Homo sapiens: one gene and its partners. The main gene of each other region encodes a partner of the protein of the gene in region 3 in a complex. Each region holds a gene or a part of one and is shown on either strand. Other genes may lie near its edges. A codon is read from its position in the direction of its gene.

The links.
Region 1: the proteins of ASF1A (region 3) and CDAN1 are in contact, whole or in part, in a cryo-EM structure (PDB 9CVC), measured with the Homo sapiens proteins. Residues at the interface, in NP_054753.1 of Homo sapiens: Gln5 (codon at 6,179), Val6 (codon at 6,182), Asn7 (codon at 6,185), Asn8 (codon at 6,188), Val9 (codon at 6,191), Val10 (codon at 6,194), Val11 (codon at 6,197), Leu12 (codon at 6,200), Asp13 (codon at 6,203), Pro15 (codon at 6,209), Asn20 (codon at 6,224), Pro21 (codon at 6,227), Phe28 (codon at 6,248), Asp37, Val45, Ser47, Ala48, Glu49, Ser50, Glu51, Glu52, Asp54, Asp58, Ser59, Val60, Leu61, Val62, Gly63, Pro64, Val65; in NP_612486.2 of Homo sapiens: Arg195 (codon at 3,439), Arg196 (codon at 3,436), Ile197 (codon at 3,433), Asn198 (codon at 3,430), Thr200 (codon at 3,424), Val202 (codon at 3,418), Lys390 (codon at 1,689), Leu391 (codon at 1,686), His470, Glu471, Glu472, Pro473, Gly474, Trp475, Asp476, Lys538, Arg541, Arg544, Leu545, Gln546, Arg548, Leu549, Met550, Ala551, Pro552, Gln553, Ser554, Ser555, Arg806, Lys807.
Region 2: the proteins of ASF1A (region 3) and TLK2 are in contact, whole or in part, in a crystal structure (PDB 7LO0), measured with the Homo sapiens proteins. Residues at the interface, in NP_054753.1 of Homo sapiens: Val45, Ala48, Glu49, Glu51, Asp54, Asp88, Val92, Thr93, Val94, Leu96, Arg108, Gly110, Tyr111, Tyr112, Arg145, Thr147, Phe149; in NP_001271262.1 of Homo sapiens: Arg11, Arg12, Gln13, Leu15, Leu16, Glu17, Arg19, Phe20, Thr21, Gly22, Val23.

Annotation. Positions count from the first base shown.
Region 1 is NC_000015.10:42,732,627-42,742,738, forward strand, and holds the start of CDAN1 (codanin-1), read right to left. Parts: upstream 4,503-10,112; 5' UTR 4,477-4,502; coding exon 4,387-4,476; coding exon of another isoform or gene 4,363-4,386; intron 4,155-4,362; coding exon 3,676-4,154; intron 3,456-3,675; coding exon of another isoform or gene 3,453-3,455; coding exon 3,249-3,452; intron 3,054-3,248; coding exon 2,884-3,053; intron 2,749-2,883; coding exon 2,635-2,748; intron 2,553-2,634; coding exon 2,474-2,552; intron 1,721-2,473; coding exon 1,600-1,720; intron 1,422-1,599; coding exon 1,312-1,421; intron 561-1,311; coding exon 471-560; intron 1-470. UniProt on the Homo sapiens protein: May act as a negative regulator of ASF1 in chromatin assembly.
Region 2 is NC_000017.11:62,571,854-62,581,259, forward strand, and holds part of TLK2 (serine/threonine-protein kinase tousled-like 2), read left to right. Parts: intron 1-1,361; coding exon 1,362-1,514; intron 1,515-2,491; coding exon of another isoform or gene 2,492-2,557; intron 2,558-4,855; coding exon 4,856-4,922; intron 4,923-6,623; coding exon 6,624-6,721; intron 6,722-8,257; coding exon 8,258-8,339; intron 8,340-9,406. UniProt on the Homo sapiens protein: Serine/threonine-protein kinase involved in the process of chromatin assembly and probably also DNA replication, transcription, repair, and chromosome segregation. Phosphorylates the chromatin assembly factors ASF1A and ASF1B.
Region 3 is NC_000006.12:118,888,248-118,898,523, forward strand, and holds the start of ASF1A (histone chaperone ASF1A), read left to right. Parts: upstream 1-5,904; 5' UTR 5,905-6,166; coding exon 6,167-6,275; coding exon of another isoform or gene 6,276-7,078; intron 7,079-10,276. UniProt on the Homo sapiens protein: Histone chaperone that facilitates histone deposition and histone exchange and removal during nucleosome assembly and disassembly.

The DNA of each region.
Region 1 (10,112 bases), on a different chromosome or scaffold from region 3:
GCGACCACACCCCCCGACCGTCTTCAGCCACACTAACAGGCGGCGGGTTTCATGAGCAATGTGAAGGGAGATGACTGGACTGAGGTTCGCGTTCTGAGCCCAGGCATCTACCTGCACAGTGACCAGACTTGCCCAAATTAGAGGATGGAGAAGATGGAGGCTGGATGTGTCTAAGCAGTGACTTGGGCCAAAAAAACCTCAAGCAACCTGAGTTAAGAGCTTTGGACTTTCTAAGCAATTGCCACTACAGAACAAGGATAAGACACCTGTGAGTGGAAGGAGCTGGAGAGACACATCCCTTTCGAATAGAGGCAGAGTTATCAATAACTAAAGAGATTTCGGAGGATAGTAGAAAACAGCTAATGGCTGGTAGGAGCGGGGAAAACCTTCCCTCCTCCTCCCTCCTGCCACCGAGCAAGCACTGAGCTACTCATTGCCAGGAACAAGAAAGACAAGGTCTGAGCACCCACCTGATTCTGCTGCCCAAGCCCTTCTCAAAATCCCAGCCAGGCTCCTCATGGTGATCTTCCCACTCTCGCAGCACCTCATAAAACACATCCCTGACGCATAAGAACGCCTGATCAGCCGAGGCACTCACTCCCACCAGTGCCTTCCTGCCCCTGGAAGAACTATCCGTAGCCCACCCACCACCTTTTTTTTTTTTGGAGATGGAGTCTTGCTCTTGTCACTCAGGCTGGATTGCAATGACGCGATCTCAGCTCACTGCAACCTCCGCCCCGCCTGGGTTCAAGCGATTCTCCTGCCTCAGCCTCCAGAGTAGCTGGGATTACAAGTGCCCACCACCACGCCTGGCTAATTTTTGTATTTTTAGTAGAGACGGAGTTTCACCATGTTGGCCCGGCTGGTCTCAAACTCCTGACCTCAGGTGATCCGCCCCTCGGCCTCCTGAAGTGCTAGGATTACAGGCGTGAGCCACCACACCCGGCCAGCAGCCCCATTTTTAAATTTCTCCAGAGTTCTCTATATGATGACAGTAGTGCTACAGACCAGCAGCACATTACAGGCTTCATGTACTTCTGTGGGCAGTGACAGTTCATCCTGGCACACTCTTGCTTGAGAACCCTGAGACTAAAACCATACACCTGTGAGATGGCTTGCTAAGCGCCGGGGTTCACAGATGCACATGAGAATGAAGCCAGGTGGTCCCTATGATGGCCGGCAGGAAGGACCTGGGGGGACTAACCCACCACCTGTTGGTGCCAAACTCCTAATTTCTATGAAACCAAACAGCTGCCTATTCCAGAAAAATGTCATCTCATTCCCTCCCCAAAAAGTCCCTTTTCTTATCACCTCTGTTTCTTAAAAGTATGAAAGGCTCGGTCACTGGAGAAGTTGGCACGATTGTCAGTCTCTGGCTGAAAGGAGACAGCTTGAGTAGAGGGAGGCATCACCAGAGAGACCTAAAATACAGCAGGAACGTTAGGAACTGCAGGGTCATGCTGAGAAAACTTCTCCCTCTTATTCTTGCCCAGAGTTAGCTCACATTACACTGAAGTGTCGTCAGCAGGGTTGCCTGAATTTATGAAAGCTAGGAAGGGTTAGGTCCAGGCTAGTGGGCAACTAAGCTGGGGTTACTACCTTGGCAACACTGCCCTCATAGGCAGCTCGAAGGCGGCCTTGCAGAGCTGGTGAGAAGCACAGCAGCCGCTCATTCTCAGCCAGCAGCTTCAAGGTCCCTTTGTCCAGGTTGGAAAGAACCCTGCAGGGACAAGAGCACCTATGACTGAGACCAGAACACAGACTGCAAGTAGGAAGCAAGCACCTGCACACCACAGAGGATCTCTAAGGCATGGCGCAGGTATGCAAGCCCAGATATGTACTGCAAGGTCATGGGCCAAGGATCAAAGATAATGAAAGTCAAGGGGAGGATATGAGACTTTACAGAGCAAGGACCAAGACAGCAGGACAGGAACATTACCCAGAAACCAAAGCTCAGCTGCCAAGACCACAGGGGTCCATTTCTTTTTCTTTTTTTTTGAGATGGGGGTCTCTGTCACCCAGGCTGGGCTGGGCGTCACCCAGGCTGCAGTGGCGTGATCTCACTACAGCCTGGACCTCCCAGGCTCAGGAGATCCTTCCACCTCAGCCTCCTAAGTAGCTGGGATTATAGGCGCACTCCCCCACACCCGGCCTTTTTTTTTTTTTTTTTTTGGTGGAGATGGGATTTTGTCATGTTGCCCAGGCTGGTCTAAAACTCCTGGGCCTAAGTCACTGTCCTGCCTCGGCCTCTCAAAGTGGTGGGAATGCAGGCGTGAGCCACCACACCTGGCCCGATCTCAATTCTTTCAGGGACTACATTCATAGCCTTAACACAAAATTAAAGAAAGATTATAGGTAGGAGAAGGTCCAGGACCACTGCCCCTGTGTTAAGCACCAGCATATATCCCAAGCAGCCAGAGAGCTAAGCAGATGATGAGAATGAGGCCCAAATGCCTCAGCCAGGGAAACTCACTGAAAGTGACACTCCAAAACCTGCACTGCAAAGAAGACACAATCGTGGATGCTTTGGAACAGTGGACTTTCCAGGGAATCTAGAAGGACAGTACCAAGCTGTCAGTTAAGAACGGTCCCGTTTCTAGACCCCATGTCTCAAAAGGAGGCTTGCTCACTGACCTAGGACAGCTGGACTTAGTTCAGGGTCGCTGTCCTTGGCAGTCACCATCCTCCGGGCAGTGAGGAGCTGAAAGACGAAGAAAAGCTCCAAGAAGAGGTTTGGTACCAGGTTCTCTAGATAGATACAAAAAGAAAGCCCATGGTATGGGCACCATTTGGAGCCAAGGCTCAGTTCCAAGTGCCTTACCAATTCTCTTACCCATAAGTTCTACAAGTGTCTCCACTCCCGCTCCCTCCGCTCTCACTCACCAGCAATGCACGAGGAGTAAACAAGGGCTACAAGCTCCAGGCGCTGGCGGGAAGACACTCTGGCAGGGTCTGCAGGTTCATCTGTGAGGCTTCCTGTCCGGCTGGGGAGGGGCGACCCCAATTCTGGGGTGGGACAGGTGGGGGTAGGTGACTGCTGCAGCTGCTTAGAGCTATGGAATAAAGAAATTTCATGAGCAGTCAGCTTGGCTTCCCTGCTACGGCCACACTCAGGTCACTCCAGAGAAGATACCAACAGCCCAGGAGACAAACCCAGAGTCCCCAAGAGGGAAATCAATTTCAGGGAAAACCCCTGAAGATCCCCCACAGCGAGGAAACCGATATCCCCAGGAGCGGCCAGGCCATACCGCTCCTTCCTGAGCATCTCTCGCTCCTCTTGCAGACTTCTGCACCCTGGGGGAAGGCCAAGGCCCCAAGGGCTAGTGTCCAGGGCTGAGGGTTGGGAACTGGGGACACAGCTGATTGGGGGTGAGGTGAAGCAGGTCTTGGGCTTGGAGAGTGACCGCTCTTCGCTCACCGGAGTTGGGTTGATCCTGCGAGAAGGCTTCGTCCTGCTGAGAGTAGCCACAGGTTTTTCTCAAATTCCTATCTTCAAACATCTCCCCTCCACCACCGCAACAGCTAGACCTCTTGCCAAAAAACCCCACAAAAACCCTCACCATCACCCCCAGCCTTCTACCCATCCTGGCGCTCCACTGCGGAGCGCCGAGCTCGAATGACTGACTCCCCAGAGCCTTCGTGGTACCCATCTCCTGCATGAGAGCTGAGTCTCACCCTGTAGGGCCGGGGGGAACCGAGCCTACGGGAGGGAACTCCTCCAGGTTGCTGAGGTTTGGCGGATCAGACAGCGTGAGGCTGGGGCGGCTGGGGCTGCCAGAGCCCCTAAGCCTCCGGCCCCCGGCTCCGGGCAGGCTCTCCCCGCTGACCCCCTCCTCCAGGCCGCGGCCTCCACGCTCGCGGGCCGGCCCCGGGCCCCGCCTCCTGCCCCCGCGGCGGGCCAGAGGGGCCTCGGCAGCGGTGCTCTGGGCCTCGGTCGGAGGGAAAAGCTGGCTGCGCGCCCCGCGGCTACCCCGCGGCGGGCCTCCCGGCCTCCCTGGCAAGGCTGCCGAGGCGCCCGGGGTCTTGGCGGGGGTCGGGGGCCCCTGCGGGAGGACGCGGCTGCTCTGCTCCCTCAGGAAGTTCAACAGGAACGGTACGAATTCTTTCCGCAGGGCCCGGAGTGAGCTCAGCGCGGCCGCCTCCCCAGCGTTATCCTAGGGCAGAAGCACAGGTGGAGGGGCGAGAGGGTCAGCCGCCGGCCCGCGGGCCGTGAGCAGCCGGGGCCGTAGGGCGCGCCTCGGGTGGGCGGCCCGGGCAGCGGCGCCCAGTTGGAGTGCACTCGGCCCGGCTGGCAGCCAGGCGCCCTAGAGGAAGGGGACTGGAGGGCTGGACTCCACTGCGGGAACCGGCTTCGAGTCAGACCTGGGGGCGTGTCACCGCTGTTACCTCCGAACCCTGGGTGCTGCGCGCGATCCACCGCACGACGGCTGCGACCGACACCTCTTCTCGCAGCAGCGACTCCAAAACGGCCGCCATCCCGGTCGGGGCGCTCTGGGGCGACTGCGCAGGCGCCGGCGCGCCGCGGGCGGCCAGGGAGGGGCGGGGCCGGCGGCGGGGAACGACCGTTGGGTCGCGGGATGGGGAGGGACCCGGCTGGCGGGGCGGGGCGGAGCCGGCTGTTGCCCAGACCCACGGAGTCAAGGCCTCGCTGAGTCCTCAACCCCGGCCGAGAGGCCGGTTGTTAGGAGGTGAAATGTGGATCACAGCGCCTGGGGAGGCCCACCTTGGCTGCCCGCCCTGGAGCGACCTGAAGGGAGGGATTCGAGCTGGGAGTGGGGCTGCCGCGGGTCGGACGCCCCTCTAGGGAGACCCAGGACCCGGGAGAGAGGTAGAGGGGAGCAGAGACAGCCACCAGCTTCTATCTTCTGCTCTAAGCACATTCTTTCACGAGTTTAAGTTTCCTAGATCCAACTGGCACCACCCCAGAGAAATTATAATCTAATCTTTCATTTTGACTTTGTTCTTCTCAAAGGCCGATTTTTCAATCCCTTGGCCGAGCAGTACCCATCGGCTTTTCAGCGCTCACCATCAACTGACCATTTAGGAAAGAATTATTTCTAGGAGGTTCTTAATAATCCCCAAGCCACAACCCTTAAAGTGCCTCGGGCCACCCTGCACACAGAATTGCTTGTATGTAGCTTTATTTACTTAAGTGGGTTTACATGAGGTTAATATTTCAACTACTTTGCAGTTTAGATGTCAGTAAGCATATCATGATTAGCTTCTGGGAGCTTGAGGTTTGTATTTTTGGGTTTGGTGTTTTTTGTTTTTGTTTTGTTTTTTTTGAGACAGGGTCTTGCTCTGTTGCCCAGGCTGGAGTGCAGTGGCGTGAGCACGGCTCACTGCAGCCTTGGCCTCCTGGGCTCAAGCAATCCTCCCGACTCAGCCTCCCTAGGGCTATAGCCCAGCTAATGTTTTGGCCGGGAGAGGGCAGCAGATCCAAAGTGCTGGGATTATAGGCGTGGGCCACCACGCCCGGCCTGAGTAATTTCTTAATCTCCTTTATTTAATTTTATTTTGAGATGGAGTCTCGCTCTGTCACCCCCGGGGCTGGAATGCAGTGGGAGGCAGAGGTGGGCGGATCACGAGGTCGAGAGATGGAGACCATCCTGGCCAACATGGTGAAACCGTGTCTCTAATAAAAATACAAAAATTAACTGGGCGTGGTGGCACGCGCCTGTAGTCCTAGCTACTGGGGAGGCTGAGGCAGGAGAATCGCTTGAACCTGGGAGGCGGAGGTTGCAGTGATCCAAGATCACGCCACTGCACTCCAGCCTGGGTGACAGAGCGAGACTCCATCTCAAAAACAAAACAAAACAAAAAAACCTGAGAGAGGATTTTGAAGGTTGCTGCTCAGTGACAAATCAAGCAAGGGAATCCAAGCGGAGAAAAACAGATGGCACGAACATTCCATGTCAAACCAAACCAGGAGGGGTGAGGCAGTGCCCTTGTGAATGCCTCCTGAGAGTTGCTCTGGTTCAAAGGAAGGTTACGGGCGGAAGGATGAGGGTGGGGGTGCAGGAATCTCTCTAGTGGCAGAAGGGGTATTTCCTATGGAGAAGGAAAAAGTACCTCCAGCCAGACAGAATAATGGACTAAAAAGGAGCTTTTAATATTTTAATTTTATTACAGGAAAACATCTCCTAACTGCAGGGACACTTAACACCTAGCTTCTATTCAGTCCTGGGCTGCTTTTTCTAGGGAACTTCTAGATGTGGTACTGCATTTACAGTAACACTATCTGCTCCCCGTTGATCTTGTAACATCTGGTGTATTCAATAACTTTATTAAATTAGAAAAATATTTTCCACTTTTGAAATCCAGACCATCACACAAACAGAACTAGATTTTGCATGCGGAATGAATATTTTATTACTAGGTTATAAAAATAAAATACAAAATAATTTTAAAACAGAACTTAAAACACTGTACAAAGCTTTAATATGATACAAATGGGAAAATTAAATAAATAATTACACTTTTATGTACAGGTGGCCTATACAAAAGCACTCCATGTTTCTGCCGATACTCTGTCCTTGGTTGCCTGAGCAAAATTGTATAAAGGGAGCTGCTTGGAGGGGAAAGGAACACAATAAAACGCCTCTGGAGGTATTTCAAAGAGTAGTTTCTCATCTCTCTGATTTCAGGAAGAGGAGAAGAGAGGGAGAGAAAAGTGGAATTATTAAAGTCATCTAACTCATTGGTCTTGTTCAACAAGAAAGAATTCTGGTTTGTGGCTGAATCTGATTTAACAGCTGCCAATAGCTCATTACTTCTAAGATGTATATCTAATTCAAAACTAGATGCTCCCCCCTCCCTCTTTTTTCCCTAAAAGCTGGGAACTTGTAAGTAAATGGCCTAGTGAAATAGACACTGGCTATTTTAGAAAAAGGGTCAGAAGGTAGACCAGGAACTATGTATCAAGGAGAAGTAAGTGAGGCTCAAGCCCAGGCCACCTAGGCTGTGTTTATTCAGTCCACCCAATCCAATGTCAAAGCCCCAAGTGGGCCAGTGTTACCTTTATCTTCCCATCTTTGTATTTCTGAAAGCTTTGTCACCTCAGTGGACTACTTTGGCTGATGAACAGTTCAAATAGAAGATTGTTTTGGAAAAAGTCCCAAGGGCTTTCCCCTTCCTGGGTAGCTCCCTATAAGTCAAATTCAAGTTCTGGTAGCCTTGTTTACCCCTTGTAGGCGAGTGAAGAATGCCCACACAGAGTTCAGATGTGGTGAAATGCTGGGCATTGATTCCTCAGGATTTAAACTGCATATTATTAGAGAAAAAGAGCATCATATGGCAAGGGTAGTCTATATAAAAACTTGGTTTACTCAATGTTTTTAATTAGGCGAGTGAACACTTATGTACATAATATTAAATAATATTAAACTAATAAAAAGAGAGGTAAAATTCCTATCCATTGTTATTGTAAAATTATATCATCAGCAAATTCTATAGTCACATGGGCTCAAAGATCTGCCTCATCCAATCTTGTTCCCTAGGTCAAGGAACCCAGAGCCAGGGTACCTGGGAGGCATGGTCAGCATCGCCAGTGTACATATATTCTGTGCCCATACTACCACTAACGCTTCCAGCTGAAGAGGAGGCAGAAAACCGTTACATTGCACAGGGCCATGAAAGGAAAGGCTTCACTACTTTTACATGTTACCTTAAGACCAAAGATCCAGCAAAGTCTAAGGAAATATCCTAATCATTACTGTGTAATGTTACTTTTTTGCTATTCAGTGTCTTGAGATTGTGTGGAAATTCAAGGTGACCTGATCTTGTCACATACTTTAATTTTCTGATCCAAATTTGCTGAAAGGGAATAATTAAACATCAAGCTTAAATATTTTTTTAAGTAGGAGCAGACAATCACAACTGAATTAGAAGACGTCTTAATGGGCATAGACTTTATTTTTGTTTTACTTTTTTTTTTTTTTTTTTTTGAGACGGAGTCTCACTCTGTCGCCCAGGCTGGAGTGCAGTGGGGCGATCTTGGCTTACTGTAATCTTCTGCCTCCCAGGTTCAAGCGATTCTCCTGCCTCAGCCTCCTGAGCATCTGGGACTACAGGCGCCCGCCACCATGCCCAGCTAATTTTTTGTATTTTCAGTAGAGACGGGGTTTCACCCTGTTAGCCAGGATGGTCTCGATCTCCTCACCTCGTGATCTGCCCGCCTCAGCCTCCCAAAGAGCTGGGATTACAGGCATGAGCCACTGCGCCTGGCCTTGTTTTACTTTTTAAAATTTCTGTGAGCTGCTCTAGAAAACTAAAGGACGAAAACTTTACTGTCATAATTCCAAGTTCAGTCAGGGATTTCTCAGAATTGAGGTGTGCAGCATCCAGATTCCCCTTTATGTGGATAGGGATCCCTGTGCCATGTCTTGCACTTACCTAAGAACTATAGGAATTCTCCATGTACCTCCTACAGTTTTTCTAGCAGTGTTGGACAATGGATTCTAAAGGTTCCTGAGACTTTGTTAAATTTCTCATAATTCCAGAGGGAAGGCCAAAATATTGAGAATACTCAATGATAGGATGAGTTTCCACTCTACTTCCTTATCCTCAAGGCACACACCAGAGTTCCACTGGGTGAGGACAGGGAAGTAGGATGTCCCAACACCCTCTGAGGGTTTTCATGCATTAATCCCGCCATATGGGCTGATGGTTGGAACTGCCTTTAGTTCTCTAAGTAAAGGTCTAAAAATGCACCTGTGGTTTCTGAACTTGGGTATACGCTGATACATAAGGACTACCATAGAAGTTACATGCCTTAATCCTGTAATACTTTTGTGTGGTATCATTCTGCTAATATATTGTCCACAGGGCCAAACCCCAAGTTACACAGCGCAACAGTACTTGTCAACCACTCCATCTCCTCAGTGACACAGGTGCTAAAGTACCTCTCCCCTGAGGCAAAGTCCCGACACATCTGTGGTAAGTGCACATAAACAGAAATGGGCAGATTTTGAAAGTGAATGCAAACAACTTAATTCCAAAATACATAAACATGACAGAAGAAGTGGTTCTCTAACATATGCCATGTTTGATCAATATAAAGAATAAGTTTTTAAAATATAAAAGACTTTGATCTCCAAGACTAAATCTAGACTTATCTGCAAATAAGTAAATTTTCAAACAGCCAGGGGAAAATGCATTTTTTTCACCGAGTCTCACTAAATCATTCTGAATTCTGGATCCTGCTTCTCGTATCACCAATTCCTAATGTTAGGAATGTAGAACTGTCTGCTCTTGGGGAAAAAAAAAGCATCTGTTTTTAATTCAAAGCTCTGGGTATAGAAAAACTAATTATGGTTTTAGCTATCTGTGTCTGGGTTTATAAAACATGCACCAATGTACACTTTCTCCTTGTAGATTGAATGCAACTATAGAAGTATTAGCATAAAAATATGTGGCCTGGAAGGAATCTCTGAAGATACTGAAGAACCTCAAGTTCCCTACATTGCTAGGAGCCAAGGGAAGGAGACACTGTACACCTAGAGCGCTGAATTAGCAGCTGAGGTTTTAGTATTTGAAAGCAAATAATATAAAGCGAGTAATGTCTACAGTGGGTCTCAGTTACCATTTGGCTACTTATTTAGGACTCGATTAACTTGGCAACTTTTACAAAAAACATTCACATCACAACATGCAACTTAAAAAACAGTTAATGTAACTATGCCACTGTCAGCAAGGCCAGCTTGCATACCAGAGTTAAGAATGAGAGTGTCTGTCTGCCTAGGGCTTAACATTCAAAGATATTTATAATCTGTGTTTTAAGGTTAAATTTTATATGACCCAGTTTTCCTTCTTTGTTCACTATACACTAAAATTAAACGCCTCTACGCTGTGCAAGAAATCACTATGTGTGATTTTACTATTTCAACCAATCCATAGACCCTGAGGATTTGGCAGCAGAATTCAGGAGAAATGCTACCTAAAGTGATTGAGCTGTTGCTAATTCTACCTTCTGTTCCACTCAAGTACCTCCAGGGACTAACAAGGGAAGGCAAGGGCAACTGTGACTGACTAGGTAACCAGCTATTCTGTTGTGACAGAAGAAACCAGGTAATACTTGATTTTCAAAAGATAATTTTAACTGCTGCCCTATA
Region 2 (9,406 bases), on a different chromosome or scaffold from region 3:
CATTTGAGTGTAGGTTTTAAAAAATTAGATTTTGCCGGGCACGGTGGCTCATGCCTGTAATCCCAGCACTTTGGGAGGCTGAGGCGGGTGGATCACTTGAAGTCAAGAGTTTGAGACCAGCCTAGCCAACATGATGAAACCCTGTCTCTACTAAAACAATACAAAAATTAACTGGGCATGGTGGCGCACACCTGTAATCCCAGCTATTAGGGAGGCTGAGGCACGAGAATCACTTGAACTTGGGAGACAGAGCTTGCAGTGAGCTGAGAGCTGAGATCGTGCCACTGCATCCCAGCCTGGGCAACAGAGTGAGGCTCTGTCTCAAAAAAAAAAAAAAAAAAGATTTATTATTCCACAAAAATGAAGGTTGGTTCCACAAAAGAGAATGTGTGGAAAAGCACAGTAGAGGAAGAAGGAGAAGGGAGCTATCATTTGATTGTCAATTATAGTGGGTGACTTAAAGACTAACCTGTTAGATGGTTAATCTCCAATTTTGTATGTTTTTATATACCAAGTCTGTAAACCTTAATATCTGTTAGGTGGTAGGATACATGAGAGAAAGTGTTTTTTTTTTTTACAATGGAGTTTTTATTGGTCCCTAATTTGTAAACTAGTTAATCACAGAAAAATGTGACATCTTATTAGGAAATACTCTAATGGTAATGGTGTTAGATTAACTGCAGTTGTAAAATATGTTTTATACTAATTCATTTTGTATACTATTCCCTAAGGAGTTCTTACTAGTTGGAAGACTTCGTTGTGCTTTCTCCAAATGTATTTTTCTTTTAAAAACTTAATCTAGGTGTCACTGTATCAGTGGGCGGGGTTGACGTGTAGAGTAGTAATGGCTCCCTTAGACTAGAATAAAGGATAGGTCTAAAAAGAAAATCTTGTTTACTTTCTTTAGCATCCTACAAACTTGGTATCTTTTTACGTAAAACTGAGAAGCTTTCATCCAAAGAAAAATAAAATAGAACTTGGAACTTTTTACAACTTTTAAAATACGATTTACTTTTAATGGGTTCAGATCAGAGAATTGTTTCCTTAGCTGTTAAAAAGGAATCAGAAAATTGTTCCTTCTGAGTCAGAAAATAAGGTCACAATAGAAATTTGATATGTTCCTTCCTGTCCACTCTGAAAATAGTAATAACTAGTGTCTTAAAGCACAGACTCATTCCCAGAAAACATCTATCACCAATTATTTGGCCCTTCCAATCTGAAGTTAAAATCAAATCTCTACTTGACTTAAAGGGGCTTATTTTTTCTGAAATTGGATACACAAGTGACAAATTGTGTGTGTTCCATAGCTGTGGTAAAACTTTTGACTTTCTTTCTTTGTACAACGTCTTTTATATCTCTAGGCAACAGGAAAGGATAAATTCACAGAGGGAAGAGATAGAAAGACAACGGAAAATGTTAGCAAAGCGGAAACCTCCTGCCATGGGTCAGGCCCCTCCTGCAACCAATGAGCAGAAACAGCGGAAAAGCAAGACCAATGGAGCTGAAAATGAAACGTATGTTCTTTATTGACGTGAACGCTGAGACACCACACCCTGCCCCCAAATACAAATGTTGATTGTCACCGGCAATAGTTTTAAATTCTTGAGGTCACTCAGGTTTAAACCTTCTTTTCAGTTACATTAATGGATTTGCTCAACTCATATAAATGCCATATAAAATTAATTGATTTTCTTAAACCTGCTCTTTCTTTAGGGCATTTTGAATGAGAGGGAAAAGTAATGTCACTTGACATCATGACTTTTGGCCACTCCTGGTTAACAAATAAGATGTCATTGTACTGAAATGATATTATTGCTTACATGTGGCTGCAGGGTGTGGTACACTAGTATCATCTTATGGGAGTTACCTGGCTGTTATTTCAGACTGAAGAATGCTCTTTACTGGTCAAAAGAGCACTTAGTTAATAGTCACAAACTTAGGATAAGCCCCCCAGAAAGCTGTTATGTTAGAAAAGGACATTGTCCCAATAAGCCACAACTTGATCTCATCAGAATTGTTTCCTGTTCTGGGAATCTAAGGAAAACACCAGTATCTTAAACTGCAGTACAGTCATCTTTTTCTCTGTCACTCAACAATATTTACATAGCTACCATATATAGGAGGAGTAGAAAATTCTAAGCACAAATGCCTGCCTTCTCCATTCTTCTCTTCCTTTCTGTTTAACTGAAAGTAAGTTTCAAGTCCAAAGATAGCTGCAGATAAAAGATATATAACTTATCAACTAATATGTCATTTGCTTTATGTTTTCATATTAGTTCACAAAAACAACACATAATCCACTTCAGGTATAATAATACTTGTATTATATTATTGTTAAAAGTCTGTGGCATCCTAGAAGTGCATCTTCTTTCATTCTAGTGAGAAAGATGGCTTAACACCAATCCTCACCCCATACATATCTGATGTTTTGGGAAGTCTCTTCCTTGATGTTCGTTTAGTAAGTTTATGTTAAATGCTTATTTTATGCTAGGCCCTCTTCTGGGAATACAGAGCTAAAGGATACAGCCCCAGCCTTAGGAGCCCACAGTTTACTTAGGTGAGATGAACAGACGAATAAACTAATAATTACATTAAGTATAGCGATAAAAATGTGCATAATGAACTTGGAAAACATCTTCATTCATATAACTCCAAATTTTGTTGTTGTTGTTTTTTTTTTTTGAGACGAAGTCTCACTCCGTCGCCCAGGCCAGAGTGCAGTGGTGCTATCTCGGCTCACTGAAACCTGTCTTCTGGGTTCAAGCGTTTCTCCTGCCTCAGCCTCCTGAGTAGCTGGGACTACAGGCGTGCACCACCATGCCCAGCTAGTTTTTGTATTTTTAGTAGAGATGGAGTTTCTCCATGTTGGCCAGGCTGGTCTTGAACTCCTGACCTCAAATGATCCACCCTCCTCGGCCTCCCAAAGTGCTGGGATTACAGGTGCGAGCTACTGCACCCAGCCCAAATGTTACAAAACTAGAGTCTTGTTTTCCCTTGATTTTAAAGACTAGTCAAGTGCAATAATGAGAATGAGAAGAGGGGAAGAGTATTGAGTCTTAAATATAAAGTATTTTCCTTTCAGCAAGTCCAAGTAGGGGCTCAAATTTGAAAGATTGTCCAGGCTAATTAATCTGACCAATGTTTTCTTTCATGACTCCTGTGTGTATTTTGTGAAGGGACTTTCCCTCTAGTATTATTTGAAAATTATTTAATGCTAATGCACAAAACCATTGGCTTAGGAGTGATAAAGAAAGCATAGGTTGTTTCTTTGCCACAGAAGAATAATTAGAATGCAATCTAGGCTAGTAATGTGTAAGCAATTGCTATCTGGTGTCCTGTGTAAAATCCAATCTGGAAGACTTTCAGTCCAGTTTTTAATTAGAGTATCTGTGACTTGGCTCTTACTTTGACCAGAAGCCAGAAGTAGGCCTCTGGGGTCTTGGAGTGAGCCATATTATCCTTTCTTGGCCCCGAACCTGTTTCAGACAGAGAATTCTTAGCCATCATTTTTAATTTTTCTGTTTTTCGCTGGTGTGGAATGGAGTAATAGATACAGGTATTTCTGCATCTGTAAAGAGATAGCCCTAGTGGGTGAGTTTCTTCTTCTTTCTATTTTTTCTTGAGTTAGACCTCAAAGGCTCTGTTCTGGTTGATAGGATAGATATTTCCCCTTTCTTCTGCTATTTAGAATATATCTAAACAGTGATATCTAAAAATATTAAATATCTATATGCTTCTAGAATGCGAAGAAGGTAGAGATGGAAGAAAAAATAATTCTCACTTGTTCATCTTTTTTTCTTTTATTTTCTTTCTTTCTGTCTTTCTCTCTCTCTCTCTTTCTTTTCTTTTCTTTTCTTTCTTGAGACAGAGCCTTGCTCTGTTGCTTGGGCTGGAGTGCAGTGACATGATTATAGCTCACTATAGCCTCAACCTTCTGGGCTCAAGCAATCCTTCCATCTCAGCCTCCTGAGTAGCTGGGACTACAGGCATGTGCCACCATGCCCAGCTTCTTTCTTCTTTTTTTCACAGAGACAGAGTGTTGCTTTGTTGCCCAGGCTGGTCTCAAACTCCTGGCTCCAAGTCCTTCCCGCTCAGCTTCCCAGAGTACTGGGATTACAGTGAGCCACCAAGCCTGGCCACTTGTTCATTCTTGAGATGTAAGGATGCTGTTGGAGTAGTTGGAACATGAAACACATGACTACCCATCAAGTCAGCCCTTTGAGAGTTGATTTAAATAGCATTTTCAATATTCTTTATATGTTGTCATTTAATAGTCACTCTTTCTTAGATAGGTATTATCACTTGCTGCATTTCAGGAAACTGAGTTAAAGAGGTTAAATTTGCTTGCGCAAGGTCACATGGCCAGTAGCTTAGTAGTGCTTTGAACCCTAGTCCTCAGACTCCAAATCCTAGACTCTAATTTGCTGCTATATCTTTCTCTTTGTTATTACAGTATCAAGGTTTAAGTATTAACAAGAATAATCAAATCCATTGGCTTATTGTTTTGCCCTCTAAAAAATTTTTAGAGAATTTTTGGCTGTCTCTGAATGAGTTTTTATCTTAGTAATATATGGCACAAAACTCATTTCAAAAATAATATAAAAATATGGCTCACTTTTTTTTCTTTTTTATGTTTTGCAAATTAGACTTCTGGCTTTGAAGTTCTTCCCTCACATCACATCTGGTAAATCACAGAAGTTTTCTCTTGTCAGAGGACTACAAGATAACCCATCTTTCAGTCATTTTAACTGAGACTGAAACTGAATATGTCTTATAGTATATTTGAGCATTTCTCTTTAAACAGGCAAACTATGATTTCTAGTAGTTTACTGAAACTTTTACCACTGTTTTTCAGGTTAACGTTAGCAGAATACCATGAACAAGAAGAAATCTTCAAACTCAGATTAGGTCATCTTAAAAAGGTAAGTATAATGAGAAAATCTCCCTGGAGAAATGTGATACCTAGTTTAAATTTGGGGTTGAAGCTATTTGGTCATTTGGGTGAATGTAATAGTAGCTGCACATAGCAGCAGAAAGCTTCAGTGACTGCTTTCACTGTCATGTCTTGTAGCCTAATGGTAGAACTCATATTTTTCCATTTTCTTTCTTCTTCTTTTTTTTTTTTTTGAGTTGGAGTCTCACTGTGTCTCCCAGGCTGGAGTGCAGTGGCACGATCTTGGCTCACTGCAACCTCCACCTCCCGGGCTCAAGCGATTCTCGTGTCTCAGCCTCCTGACTAGCTGGGATTACAGGCACGTGCCACCATACCCAGCTAATTTTTGTATTTTTAGTAGAGACGGGGGTCTCACCATTAGGCTGGTCTCGAACTCCTGACCTCAAGTAATCCTCCTGCCTCGGCCTCCCAAAGTGCTGGGATTACGGGTTACAGGTGTGAGCCACCATGCCTGGCCTATCTTTGCATTTTCAAGTCAATTCCAGCAACCCAATGACAGTGTTTTTCCCCCTAGTGATCTATCAGCAGATAATTCTGTACACATCATAAGGCTTCCCAAGTGGTTATCCTTGGAGTAAAATTTAAATATATAACAAGAGCAGATGGTTTTGAAATTGATGTGAAGACTCCTGTCATATTTCAAATCACATAGCAGCTCTTATTCCTTGCCTAAACTAGCTAAAAAGAGAAAGTGTTATGTGAACCTTATTCAAATACAAAGGCACATAACATAGAATTTGTTATTGATGATGTTCACTGAGATATCTTAGATGTGGATTACTCAGCTCTTAAAATTCAGAAGCCCATACATTGGTCGATGCTCTTTATAGGTGATAATGGTCAGTAAAGATTTACTAAACTGCTTTTGGTATGTGTGCTTTTGTTTTTTATTTCACATATTAGTTTTCATGCTGTTTTCCCACTGGGTTCTCAGAGCTTGTTAAATAAGTAGAACTTGCTGGGGATGGTGGCTCACACCTGTAATGCCAGCACTTTGGGAGGCTGTGGTGGGTGGATCACCTGAGGTCAGGAGTTCAAGACCAGCCTGCCCAGCATGGTGAAACCCCGACTCTACTAAAAATACAAAAAATTAGCTGGGCGTGGTGGCATGTACCTGTAATCCCAGCTACTCGGGAGGCTGAGGCAGGAGAATCACTTGGACCTGGGAGGCGGAGGTTGCAGTGAACCGAGATCGTGCCATTGCACTCCAGCCTGGGTGACAACAGCGAAACTCCATCTTAAAAAATAAAAATAAGTAGAACTTAAGTCACCAAGTGTAATCCATACTTAAAGATGAGAACCGAACCAGATAGATAACCTGATTTTTGTAAAAAATGTTTCCATGTCTAAATGTATATGCACAAAACATTCCTGAAAACTTATGTAAGAAACTTAATAGTGGTTATTACATCTCAGGAGTGGGCATGGAGAGGAGGGAGGAGGAGGGTAGGGAACTTTTACTTTTCTTACTGAACTCCTCTGTATGGTTTGAATTTTATTATTTTCTATGGGCTCATTTTTATGATTAAAATTCTTAAAGAAATCTTTCAATGCAAAGCACCTTCCTTTAGCCTTTCATAAGATAAATGTCTGCTATTGTTTTTGAAATAAGATCCCGAAAAGGTAAAGTTCCCCCTATTTTGTGCTATTTCTTTCCTTTTCGCTTTAGGAGGAAGCAGAGATCCAGGCAGAGCTGGAGAGACTAGAAAGGGTTAGAAATCTACATATCAGGGAACTAAAAAGGATACATAATGAAGATAATTCACAGTAAGCTACTTCAGGGCATATTGGGTTGGAGATTGCTAAGCATTTTATGATATGAATTGAATGGTCTAGAATAATGTGTTTGCTTAATGTAAGTTACATAAATGATTCCATGGTGTATTTAGCTCTTTTGTAGCATCTAATACAATTTTGTGAACAAAATTATGATTTGCCTTGGTTTAAATATACAATTGTATTAAATTTATATATTAAGTATATATGTGTATACATATAGCATTTTTACATGAATAAAGATTACTAAAACAATATGGCTTTGTAATTGTAAATGGTTGAGATATGTTGCATATTCAGATTTTCCTACAGAGCCTTAAGAAAGGGAAGATGGGTCACAGTGTGGTGTTGTGGAAAGAGTATTGGGTTGAGATGACACTCGGTTTCTGAATGACCTTTAAGGGCTATTCAGGTGTTGAGATTTTAAGTAAGACTCTTAAGTTCAGTACATTAATTGTAGATGAATTGAAACTGGGAAAAGTAGGTTGAAAGTAGAAAGGGGTTTTTATAAGTAATCTGTTTTTTCCCCATATTTTTTGGACCCTGAAACATTTTTTCATAAAGCCATAGCTTGTATATTTTTGTTTGGCTTATATGAGCTTTGGACCTGTCTTTCTGTTAAAGTGGCAGACAACAGCAGGTACCACTTCCTGAGAGCTCTCTGTGTATCAGGCTTGGTCCTAAGTGCCCTTAGTGCTCTCATTTAATCCGCAGGATAACCCAGTCATCTTTAATACATTAATCAGAAAACAAGCTTAGAGAAATTAAATTAACTTGCCCAGGGACCCATAAATAATGTGACCAAAGAGTTCAACTTGGATCTTTTTCATCTAAACCACCATGCAGTAATGTCTCTCCAGATAGGCATCCTACTTTCTTAAAATCCATGTAAAGTAATTTCAGAATTAATAGTGAGATTGTTTAAGATCAGGAACTAGGTAAAAATATTTTTAAATTTGTTTTTGCCAGAACTTGTCATTTCTTTATCATATTATTAAGAAAATACCCAAGGTAGAGTCTAATATGGGGAACACAGTTATATCTGTCTTAAAGAGAGAATAATGAATGCACATAGAACATGTGACTCACTTTAAAATCAAATCTGTTTTTAAGGAAATAGCAAGTGTCTTGGAATTTTACTGTATGTAGTTTTGAAATGGTGGGAACATGTGGCCCTTGAATAGTTTGGAGGAGCCAAATAGCACAATCTAAAAATCTCTAATCTACCCTCCCTCATTGTATAGCAGGGCAGAAAAAAGGAGGAGGAGCAAGAAAGGTCTAGTGTAGCTACACTGAGACCAGCACCCAAGTCCTGTGGCTCTATAGCTGGTGCTGTTCATTGTAATTACACTGCCTCTTTGAACTGTGTAACTTTATACTCAGTATTTGCCATGTTGATGTTGATTGTCAAACTACCAACAGCAGCTATAATTATATGTATAATGTGTTAGATATTCTGGGAATTTTGCAAGCGTGGAAGACTGTAGTCCATGATCTCAGGGTGTTACATGTTCCCTGTTTCCACAGATTTAAAGATCATCCAACGCTAAATGACAGATATTTGTTGTTACATCTTTTGGGTAGAGGAGGTTTCAGTGAAGTTTACAAGGTAAGTATAAGGAACTGGATACAAAGACTGGGGGTTAAATTATCGGCTCCTACCAACTTGGAGAACATTAAGAATACTGATAATTGTAGGTTGATATCCATTGGTTGAAATTCAAAAACTTTAAAAACCTGTATCTTTGGGAAAACAGCTTTCAATAAACCTAAGTGACCAAGCAGAATACAGTATTGCCATTTTCAAGTTTGAAAAATAAATAATTATAGATTTAAAAAACAAGAAGGAAATATACTGGGTCGTGGAATTATGATTTTTATTCTGGTTCTGTACTTCCTGCCTCATACATATTTGTTAGAAAAAAGTATGTGCTATCTTTCTTTCTTTTACAGAATAGATGTGTCAAACCTGTTTCCAATAAGAATAGGTTTTTTTCCATTGGAAAACCTGCTTTTTGTTTTAGAAGTGTTCTAATATCATTTACTAGCACTGGCAGTCTGAAAGAGTGTCCTGGCTTAGAGTGCTTCAGTTGGGCTAGCGAAGTACAGGCTGCTGAGCTTCCAGGTTGATTTTTACCAAATGAGGGATTCAATATGTTTTAAATATAGCTACAGATCCATAACATGTGGGTTTGATTTTTCTACGTGTTTCTGGCACCTGTCTGTAAAGTACAGAATTGTTTATTAAGTAGTCTTTGTTGCATAGCTGTCCCTTTCAGAAATACAGCTTTCACTGTTAGGATTTATGTTATGCTCATATGAATTTATATGTGATAAATCTTTTCAGTAAAATAGTTTTCATTGCAAATAAAAACGGTAAAACTATTTCTACTGTTTTCTTATTTTAATTTTTTTTAAATTGTGGTTTTATTTATTTATTTATTTTAGAGATGGGGTCTTGCTCTATTGCCCAGGCTGGAGTAAGGTAGCACAATCATAGTTCATTGCAGCCTCAAACTGCTGGGCACAAGCAAGCCTCCTGCCTCAACCTCTTGAGTAGCTGGGACTACAGGCCCAGTGCACTAATTTTTAAATTTTTTCTAGAGACGGGGTCTTGCTACATTGCCCAGGCAGGTCTCAAACTTATGGGCTCAAGCAATCCTCCTGCCTTGGCCT
Region 3 (10,276 bases):
AGGCAGAGGTGGGCGGATCACAAGGTCAGTAGATCGAGACCATCCTGGCTAACACCGTAAAACCCCGTCTCTACTAAAAATACAAAAAAATTAGCCGGGTGTGGTGGCGGGCGCCTGTAGTCCCAGCTACTCGGGAGGCTAAGGCAGGAGAATGGTGTGAACCTGGGAGGCAGAGCTTGCAGTGAGCCGAGATCACGCCACTGCACTCCAGCCTGGGTGACAGAGTGAGACTCGTCTCAAAACAAACAGACAAACAAACAGAAAACCAGTCTGGTAGCTCCTAAAAAGGAGTTACAATATCTTACCCAGCAATTCCACTCCTAAGCATAAACCTAGAAAAATGAAAACATTTGTCCCATCCCATGCAAAAATTTGTACACATATGTTAATAGCAGCATTTTGTGTAATAGCCAAAAAGTAGAAACCACCTAGATGTCCATCAACTGACAGATAAATAAAACGTGGTATACCTATACAATGGAAAATTATTGGGTAATAAAAAGGAATAAAGCATCAATATATAACACAACATGAAAGAAGCATCAAAAACATTATGCTTCAAAGATGCTGGTCATAAAAGACTACATATTATAAGATTCCGTTTATATGAAATGTCTAGAATAGGCAAAACTATAGAGACAAAAAGTAATTCAGTGCTTGCCTACTGCTTGGGGGATATGCTGGGGAGGGGGATGTGCTAAAGGCTACAAAGCTTCTTTTTGAGATCATGAAAATACTCTAAAATTGATTGTGATGATGGTTGCACACCTCTGAATATTCTAAAAACTATTGACTCAGATGCTTCAAATGAGTGAATTACATGTTATGTGAATTCTATCTCAACAAAGCTGTTACCTGAAAAATATTACTGTGTAATCATACCAGGGGGTACTTAGAGGTGGATTCTTTGCATGCCGGATTCAAAGCCTTATCAGGCACAAATTCTACCAACCAAATTTCTACCAATTAATTACCTATTAGCTCATTTGTGAAGCATTTCCCCTCCCTATCCTTTCTGGTTTTTGACTCTTTCTAAATGACCATGCATATGAGGCCTCCAATCTCACAAAGCCTACATGCCTAGCTTCTGCCAAGCGTCACTCCATCTAATGTCATTTGTCTCTATAGTAACCAACTAGAAAAGCTGCTATGCTTAGTAATGGCTTTGTACGAGCAGTGGTCTAGCCTAGAGATGTTTTAAAGATTTGAGTCCTCTCTACCGATTACTGTTTTTTTTCCTGGTATTAAAAAGTGAACCTCTGATGAATGAGAGCAGTAGAGGGTTAGAGAGAAAAGGATGGAATATATTATAAAACATGAAGGAAGATGGACTGCAAGTAGAGACTTGAGTTCAAGAGGAAACGAGTTTAGAAAGACCTTGATTGATAAGAGGACTAAGAAGACACAGACAAAAAACTAGGTATAAGAAACAGAAAATAATTATTAGGCATTTCCCTTCAAAATGGTCAAAAACAACATAATGATATACACACCAAGAAACTGTCAATAAATGTAATTACAGTGCTTCAGAAAGCTGACTGATGTAACCTATGGCTATGCAAAAGGTGTTTTACAGTATAGTCCAGCTATGGATAAGGGATCAGATATAGCTTATACCTTCAACAAACTTCTAACACAATGATGGGTAGAAAAGAACACAAAACAGTGAAACTTTTATTAATGACGTGGAGCAGAGAAGGGGAGAGGGTACGCTATGTAACAGACATGGAAACCTTATAAAAAGTATAAGGATGCATTCCAGGATGTGTAGCTCCATCCCCCACACCTTCCAAGGGATGCCTTTTTCAACAGGAGGCTTGACATCTGTAGTACCCCGTGGGGAGCCTCCCCCAGCTTTGCCTTGGCTGGGTCTCCTTCTCTCTCCCAGTATACACCTGGACCAACCTCATTAATGGAGCTTTGTTCCTCAAGAGTTCATTAATCAAGTCATTACTGGAGTGTCCGCCAGCCTGTGGGTTCTTCCAGAAAATGATACCAATCTATTTTTTCTACATACAAAGCCCACTTTAAAATTTACTTGACATGGTAGAGAGTACAAAGGTACTAGGACAGCCATCAGAGGAATGGGTTTCTGAGCAGCAGCATCCTCATTTGTTATATGGGATGATATCTTACCCTCCTGCCATTCCTGTTTGTGAGGCTCAAAAACAGGTATTTTAAAGTTTTTTACAAATTGTCAAGAAAACATTTTTTCTTTTGCCTATTTTAACATAACTGGTTACAGGTGCATCTAACACTTTCTATTTCGCATCATACTTATTTGATTAGTTACCTTTCCTACTGAACCATAAGGTCTTTGTATGTCTTATCTTTGACTATTTCTCACAGAGCCTAGCATAAAAATTTCACATAACAAATGCTCTCTGTATGTATGTAATGAATTATTATTGAAATCATTATTGTACAATTTACTCCATTTAGAAATGTCTATGAACTCCATCAAATCTCTAGTCTATATTTATACAGAAAATTTTATTTAAAACTATCATTAAATTTTGACATCCTATTTCTAATAAATAAAAAGGAGCCTCTTAAACTAACTAAAGACCATATTAAAACAAGCCTTACATGAGGAATTTTTTTAAGTTGGTAATAATACAAATGAGAAGACAATTCAACACAGTGATTACCCGAGGTGGAAATCTAGATTTGAACAAAAGCTAGAGGTTAGTACTTCCATTCCTATGATAACTTTTGCAGTAGACACGGGCTGACACTCAATTTAATTCCTAGTTCTAATGTATTTTAATTTGGCACATTTTGATTTAATTCAATTTTAGTATATTTGAATTCGCTCTTTCATCTTGTTTTGTGTATGACCTCAATTTGACTTCAAGTTTCACTTCTCTGTAGAGGAGTCTTGAATCCATGCAAGTAAGCTGCATCTTGTGTCTTCAGAATTCAAGCTATATGCCCAGTGGTATATACTTCCTCTGAAGAATGGCAACAGCACACCACTCCACATACGCCACACCCTTACTGGCATGGCTAAAGGACCACATCATTTCACCCACAGGAAGTGCTTGGGAACTGACCAATATTTGGATTCAGTAAGATTAGATGCTCAAATAAGCTTAATTCTGAGGGGAAAAATATCTTATAGCTATATTAGGTTGTTAGAGCTGCCATAACAAAATATCACTCACTGGGTGGCTTAAACAATAGAAATTTACTTTCTCACAGTTCTGGAAGCTAGAAATCCAAGATCAAGGTGTTGGCAGGTTTGGTTTATTCTAAAGCCTCTTTGCTTGGCTTGCAAATGGCCACCTTTTTGCTGTGTTTCCTCTGTGTGCGTGTGACCCTTGTGCTTCTCTGTAAATCTAAATTTCCCCTTGTGAGGACGCCAGCTAGATTAGATTAGGGCCCACCCCAATCACCTCATTTAACTTAATCTCCAAATACAGTCACATTCTGAGGTACTAGGGATTAGTGCTTCAACATACGAATTTGGGGGAGACATAATTCAGTCTAAAACAACAACTAACTAGTTTCATGTATTTCTGCCCTAAGCACTAGTTTAGGCTTTGTTCTGTTCATCTTAGAGCCGATAAAATCTCTCTCAGCCATCCTTCCCCCAAGTAACCCATAGTGAGAAGTGATTGGGGGATTACATTCCATGCAGCCCTCCAAACATTATGTGGGACCCCCTTGGGTACTTAATAAAGACATTCACAGTGACCCATCTGTTGTACAATTAGATGTTTGGGAGTCACCAAAGTTGTTCAGCAACAAGTCCTACTGATTGCCTCTGAAACCAGAGAGAGGCTTTCACAATTCTTTTTTTCCTACAGCATACCAGTTAAATTAGAAATATGCCAGGACATATCTGAGGAATCCTTTCGGTCTCTCCTGGAGTAAGGTAGTATCAATGGTGAGGAAACTATTGAACAAAGTGCTCAACGACCCTTTAGTATTTCTGACAAGCAATAATACAAGAGTTAAGACAGGAGAAGCCTGGAGCTAATTCTTGCAGCTTCCAGTGAAATGTTGGGGAGTTTTTTCTTCTTAAATACTGTTGCATATGATGTGTTAAACAAAAAATTTTAAAGAAAATAAGCCAAATTAGTGGCATTCAGGTAGATCTTCTCAGTCCTTCATGCTGCACATCCACCAAAAGTGAGTTTTACAACTAGTCTCATTGTAACACTTACGGTCAGACTGCAAAATGCACGTGATTTTAACAAGCATAAAATGTCGTTTTCATGAGACTGACTAGACTCTCCTCTTAAGAGTACCTGTAATAATCAGACAACTGCATACACCAGTCTCACAGGAGTTTTAATCTTCAAATGGTCATTTTATCTTACATATACAGAGTGTCTTACAGCATACAGCAATTTCCACTTTATCTGCTAGTGTTAGGACCAGCACTAATAAGAATGAAGAGTATGTTGTTTATCAGCCACAAAAATCTGTGTCTATCACCATGGTTTGACTCTTAATACTCTAATGTCACAAACAACTGGCTTGAAGAAGTGTTTTTTGGTAGGTCCTATATCTAACTGTTCAATCCACTGACAAAAAAAGGGAACTCTTCCCCACTCTAACCGGTTTTCCTAAATGTACGAGGGGTTGACATTAGCTGTCTCACATTAACTTTCAAAAGACCATCAGATGAAAACGTTTCATCAAAAGCCACCTACTTAAGTATGAACAATGACCAAAGAATGACAAATCAAAATTCTGGGCACTATACTAAGAGAAAACTCTTCCAGAACACATACTTAAGAATTAATTTTCTCTCTGAATTTGGCCAAGTTTGGTGGTTTCATTCACAACATTTAAGGAAAAAAATGATGGTTTATGGCTAGCAGATAATAAAACAAACCTTTATACCACTTACTAAATAGAAACGGTTTAGGCTCACAAATATGTTAAAGCTTTCTCTTTCCCCGCAATGGTAGCCAAGCAGCATAAACGAATCAACATTTCCTCAGTTCAGACCTCAACTGGTTACAGGCAAGCAAGGGCTCCTCAGAATTTGCTTTACTAACGGTTTAGGTCAGAAATTTTTTTGAAGATCAAATGTCTTGCTATGTCTTTGTGTTCTTTTTCCCATCTCTATTACGTTTGTTGCCCTGTTGGTCTCCTAACACTTCCATTTTCTCCTTTTATGTTCCTGCTATGCTCTCCAAATGGCAGTAACCTGAAGTATAACTGATCACACCTCTTGTGATTTTTTTTTATTCTAGGACTTCCCAGATCTGGACTCCGAAGAAGACGCCCAGGTGCAAGCCCAAAGGTTACCTATTTAAATTTTCCAAGCACAGTGTGTAGAAAATCATTCCTCGCCCTTCATTTTGTGTTGCTTAACGGCGCTGTCGTGCCTAAACGTAGATACTGGCCAAGAGCTAGATTTCCAAAATGGCTTTGCTCCTTTCGAGCTGACATCGGTCTATAACATGCAATTTATTTCCCCTGCAGCCAATCTTTCTCTCTACTCCAAATACTACCCGATACGCAGAAAGCTGAACCTAACCCAGTGTAAACACCGACTCTCATCTGCTAAATTCAGCAAGGCCGGCAAAGCTGTTGCACTGATGTAAAAAGAGCGTTAAATCAAAAAACCAAAAAAACAAAAAAAAAAACAAAAAAACGCCAAAACACCCACACGAAGCCAACTGGAGGGGCGGGCGTCGGCCGGATCGCGCCCTCCCGCCGCAGCCACGCCTCCCCGCCGCGGCCACGCCCCCTCCGCCCCTCTCCGCGCCGCCGCCGGCGGCCTCCGCGCGGGCCTCCCAGCCCTTATTCCACTCACTTTGTTCTCCGCCTTTGTCCTAATCCACACCAGCAGGTGGAGCCGCAGTTAAAGTTTCCGAGTCCATTCCGGGAGCGGGAGCCCATCTTGCTGGCTGCCGAGGCCCTCGCTGGAGGAGGAGGGTCAGAACTCGGGTGCAGCCAATCGAGGGCAACGCTGCTACTTATCAGAGCAGAATGGGCTGTAGTTTAGTGAAATAGGAAAGCTGCAAAACACTGTGGAGTGCTCCCGTGTAAATAAAAAGAGGAAAAAAGTTTCTCAAGTCGCCGCTGCACGACGTCTGGCCGGCGCTGGAGCGGGGGTCTGCGCTCTCCCGAGCGGCCGCGCGCTGGACTTTATTGTGCCGCAACCAGCCCCAGTTCCCATTGTTTGTGTTTTTTTCAAAATATGGCAAAGGTTCAGGTGAACAATGTAGTGGTGCTGGATAACCCTTCTCCTTTCTACAACCCGTTCCAGTTCGAGATCACCTTCGAGTGCATCGAGGACCTGTCTGAAGGTGAGTGCGGCGCCCGTGCGCCCGGGCTGTCAGTTGCGGGCTGCAGACGTTGAAAGTTTCCCGGGCCGGGCCTCGCGCTGGGCGGCTGTGTTCGGCGCCTGGCGGCCGCGGGCTGCTCTGCGGAGGGAAACTTGAAGTTGATGGACGACGGCCGCCGAGGCGCGCGCGGCTTTCCGCCGCAGCCCAGGCGCCTGCCGGGCTCAACTTGCGAGGAACTTGTTTGAGCGGAGGAGCGGAGGTAGCCATGTTGTCAGCTTTGTCTGCGGGCGGGCAGCTCGGAGACCCGCACTCGCTCCCGCTGCGCCGCCTGAGGTCGCGCCGGGCTGGCTCCGCGCCGCCAACAGCCTCCGCGACCCTCCGGGCCCGAGCACGGAGGCTGGGAAGGGAGAGGCTGTGCGTGTGGTCGCGCCGGCGAGTTCGGAGCGGAGCCATCTTACCCCGAGTCGAGAATTGGGCCAGCGACCCCGGCGCACGGCGCCTCCTCTTGCCCCGCCGCCCGCCTGCCCCCGGCGAAAGGCAGGCAGGCACTCTCGAGAGCTCACGGTGGAGTCGCCGCACTCTCCGGGCTGGCCATGCCTGGCCGCTTCGGGGAGGAGAGCGAGGCTGTCCTCGCGCTGATTTCTGGCTTCCTCGACCAACCAGCGGGGGAGGCGGGCGCAGGCTCGGCCCCTCCGCGCCGCGGGCTGGGCGCCGGCGCTCCCCGGGGGCCGTGGGTCCTGTTCGGCCGGTCCTCCTCGGCCGGCGCCCGGGATGCGCCGGGATGCTGGCGCGCAGGCTCCCCAACCAACGTGGACTCCTTTCCCCTAATGACGAAAAGCTAATTTCAGGAAGAGAAATAGAGCTGAGGTAGGAAGTTACATTTAACCTAAAAGCAGAAATAAGATACTTAAATAATTTCCAGGACTTAATCTCTGCCTTATAAATAGTCTGAAGGAAGACTTTCTTCAAGACCGTGTTGAAATCTAAAATAACTCCACATCCAAATACAGAACACACCCTAAACATAAAACACAAACGTAGGCTAGGAAATTAAGGTCAACTCCTCATGTCAGTCCAAGAATTCTTGGTATTTTTTCTACATATATTTTAAGGTCTTAAAAATACGTATTTTTAATATCTTTAGTAATAAATATTTAGAAAGCTAAAACGACAATTATCTTTGCTTTAATTATCTTTTACTAAAGTAATTCAGTGCTTCATTTGCCAGTTTTGAAGGGGAAATAGTTTAACTTCATCGATGAGGGACATACTTTGAACTAGAAGTATATGTAAAAAATGCATTGAAGATGATTTAGGTAATCGTGGCATGTAAAACTTTTCATTTTAAAAACTAGTTTTTAATCTCTAAAATGTATATATCATATGTAAGGTTAATTTTAATTATAAAACAATATATATTCATTGTAATAAACTTTTAGAAAGTTGTACAGGCATATATAAAGTTAACAGTTCTCTGTACTCAGTGCCTTGCCCTATCTCCTTTCGGTAATCACAATTATTACTTTAACATGTGCCCCCGTTTTTTTTTTTTTTTTAAACCTATATAGAGCATAAATGCACATACATATATAGGGCAAATTTTGAAAGATGATTCATTTATTAAAATAATTTCAAATAGGCCATTGATAACACTAAGGGGTATTTTTCTTATTACTCTGAAGTCATTTGATTACTCTCCTATGATACTACTATTAATATAAGCATTGCAGCTACCAGGCCCATTTTTCACACCCAACAGTAATTTTTTTTTTATTGCCAACTGCATATAAAAATAGACAAAAGAAAAACCATTGATCGGTCCATTCCAACTTATACCACACTGTTTTTCAGATATACCACCAGAAGTTCTTCAAATTACAGGTATTTCTCAAGTGTTGCCTTCCATTTTAGGAGTCAGCTCTGAACAAAGAAGATAGATGACTCAGGATGTCGTTACAGGGCTTTTACATTGCATAGATGAAACCAGCCATTCATAAAGCCAAAACGTTCCATTTTTAACTGGGATCCATTCAGAACCCAGCTGAATCACATCAGGGATTTACAGTACTGGTGTCAAAAACATACTTATTTCCAATGGTATATTTCACTTCCTAGGCACCATTACTGAGCATTTATTTAGTATTTTAAAAAATATTTTAAGCTGAGTCATACTGAAGCTGCAAAGGAATCTTTCAAAAAGGTGCCATGCCTGTATACTCCACCTAGAGGCTATGTGGATTAAGGAAATTTTTACTTAGCAAAGGCTTCTAATAGGTTCCATACTTTTATATTACAGTTCTTTTAAAAATTCTGTTCTTAAAATTAAACTATAGAATTTTTTTTTTTTTAAATGAGACAGTGTTGCTCTGGCACTCAGGCTGGATGGAGTACAGTGGTGCAAACACAGCTGCTCCCTGCAGCCTCAACCTGGGCTTAAGCAATCCTCCCACCTTAGCCTCCTGAATAGCTGGGACCATAGTCGATGTGCCACCACATTGGGCTAATTTTTTAATTTTTTGTAGAGACGGAGTTTTGCCATGTTGCCCAAGCTGGTCTCGAACCCCTGGGCTCAAGCAGTCCTCCCACCCCTGCCTCCCATAGTGTTGTGATTATAGTGAGCCCACTGCACCCAGCCCAAACTATAGAATATTTTGAAAAGAATTTTCTTAATAAGTTATTTTGCCTCAAGTCTCAAAGCAGAGTTTGGCCACCGTTTTTCATACTTTCATCAGTAGCCCCAAACGTTCACTTTCCTTTAAGAGCTGCCCTGTAGCTTTGCTTCAGAAAAAGCCTTGAGGAATATTTGGTCTTAAGATAATTTGGTTCTTTCTAATATAGGGCTTATATCAAGGGTTAAGACAGCCTGAGACCCTGGCTGGATGTGCTTGATGGTCACCAAGACTGTACAAGTTTTGATTGACCATCCTGCCATTCTTAAATTTATATATATATATATCTTAATTACAGCTACTGTCAATTGAATACTTATAATATACCAGAATTGAGCATGGTGCTTCATACTTTCCAACTTCAGCTTGTTCTAATTCCAAAGCCTACATACTTTCCACTAGACCACAGGTCTTCCCAAGTAGTGTAATTAGCTAAAAATTCTCTTGATGACTTCCCTCATTCACTCACTCTTTCACCACAAATGTAAATACTTTCAGGCTGGGTAAATCATTTAATCATGATTACTGTGATTAAATAAAAGTTAACTTTAAAATAAATGAACAAATTTCTTCACCTGAGAACTTATGTAAAACATCTGACCTTACCCTTCCTCCCTCAAATACAGGGGGCAGAGGAATTAAATGAAAGCTGGGTTAAAAAAAAAAACAACAAAAAAACTGATGCCAATGTATAAAAGGGTATTGAGCATGTAAAACTCAGCAACTGTAGCAAGCATCCCATAAACATAAAAATCAATGTACAAGTGTTCCCTGAGTTGCAGCCTGTTCTTGTTAAGGCTAGATTCTCTCTCCATCTCCTCTGCTCTCACTTCCCCTGCAAATAAATTCCCTTATTCCACTGCTAATTTCAGAGCTAGAAAGAATTTATCTTCCCAGTTAGGTTTTCAGAAGAAGCCCGGGGTTTGTAGTTACAGAGGCATAGCTTGGATTCTGATTCTTTGATGTACAAATTATGAATTTGTGTAGATTACTTAACCTCTCAGAGTCTCAAGTTATTTGCATAATGGGGATAATTTGATCTACATGATGAAGCTGTTGAGGTTTAAACAATAGGTATGAAGTAGAACTAATGCCCAGTATATAGTAGGTATTTTCTAAAATAGGTTTATAAATTATGGCTATGTTCCTATGCCAGTCCACAAATGCGAATTTATACCACTTAGGATCAAGGGCATTATATGTAGTGATACAATTATATATGAAATTAAAATTCATGAAAACCTTTATGTAATAATTTTTTTTTTTTTTTTTTGGAGACAATCTCGTTCCATTGCCCAGGCTGGAGTGCAGTGGCGCGATCTCGGCTCACTGCAACCTCCGCCTCCAGGGTTC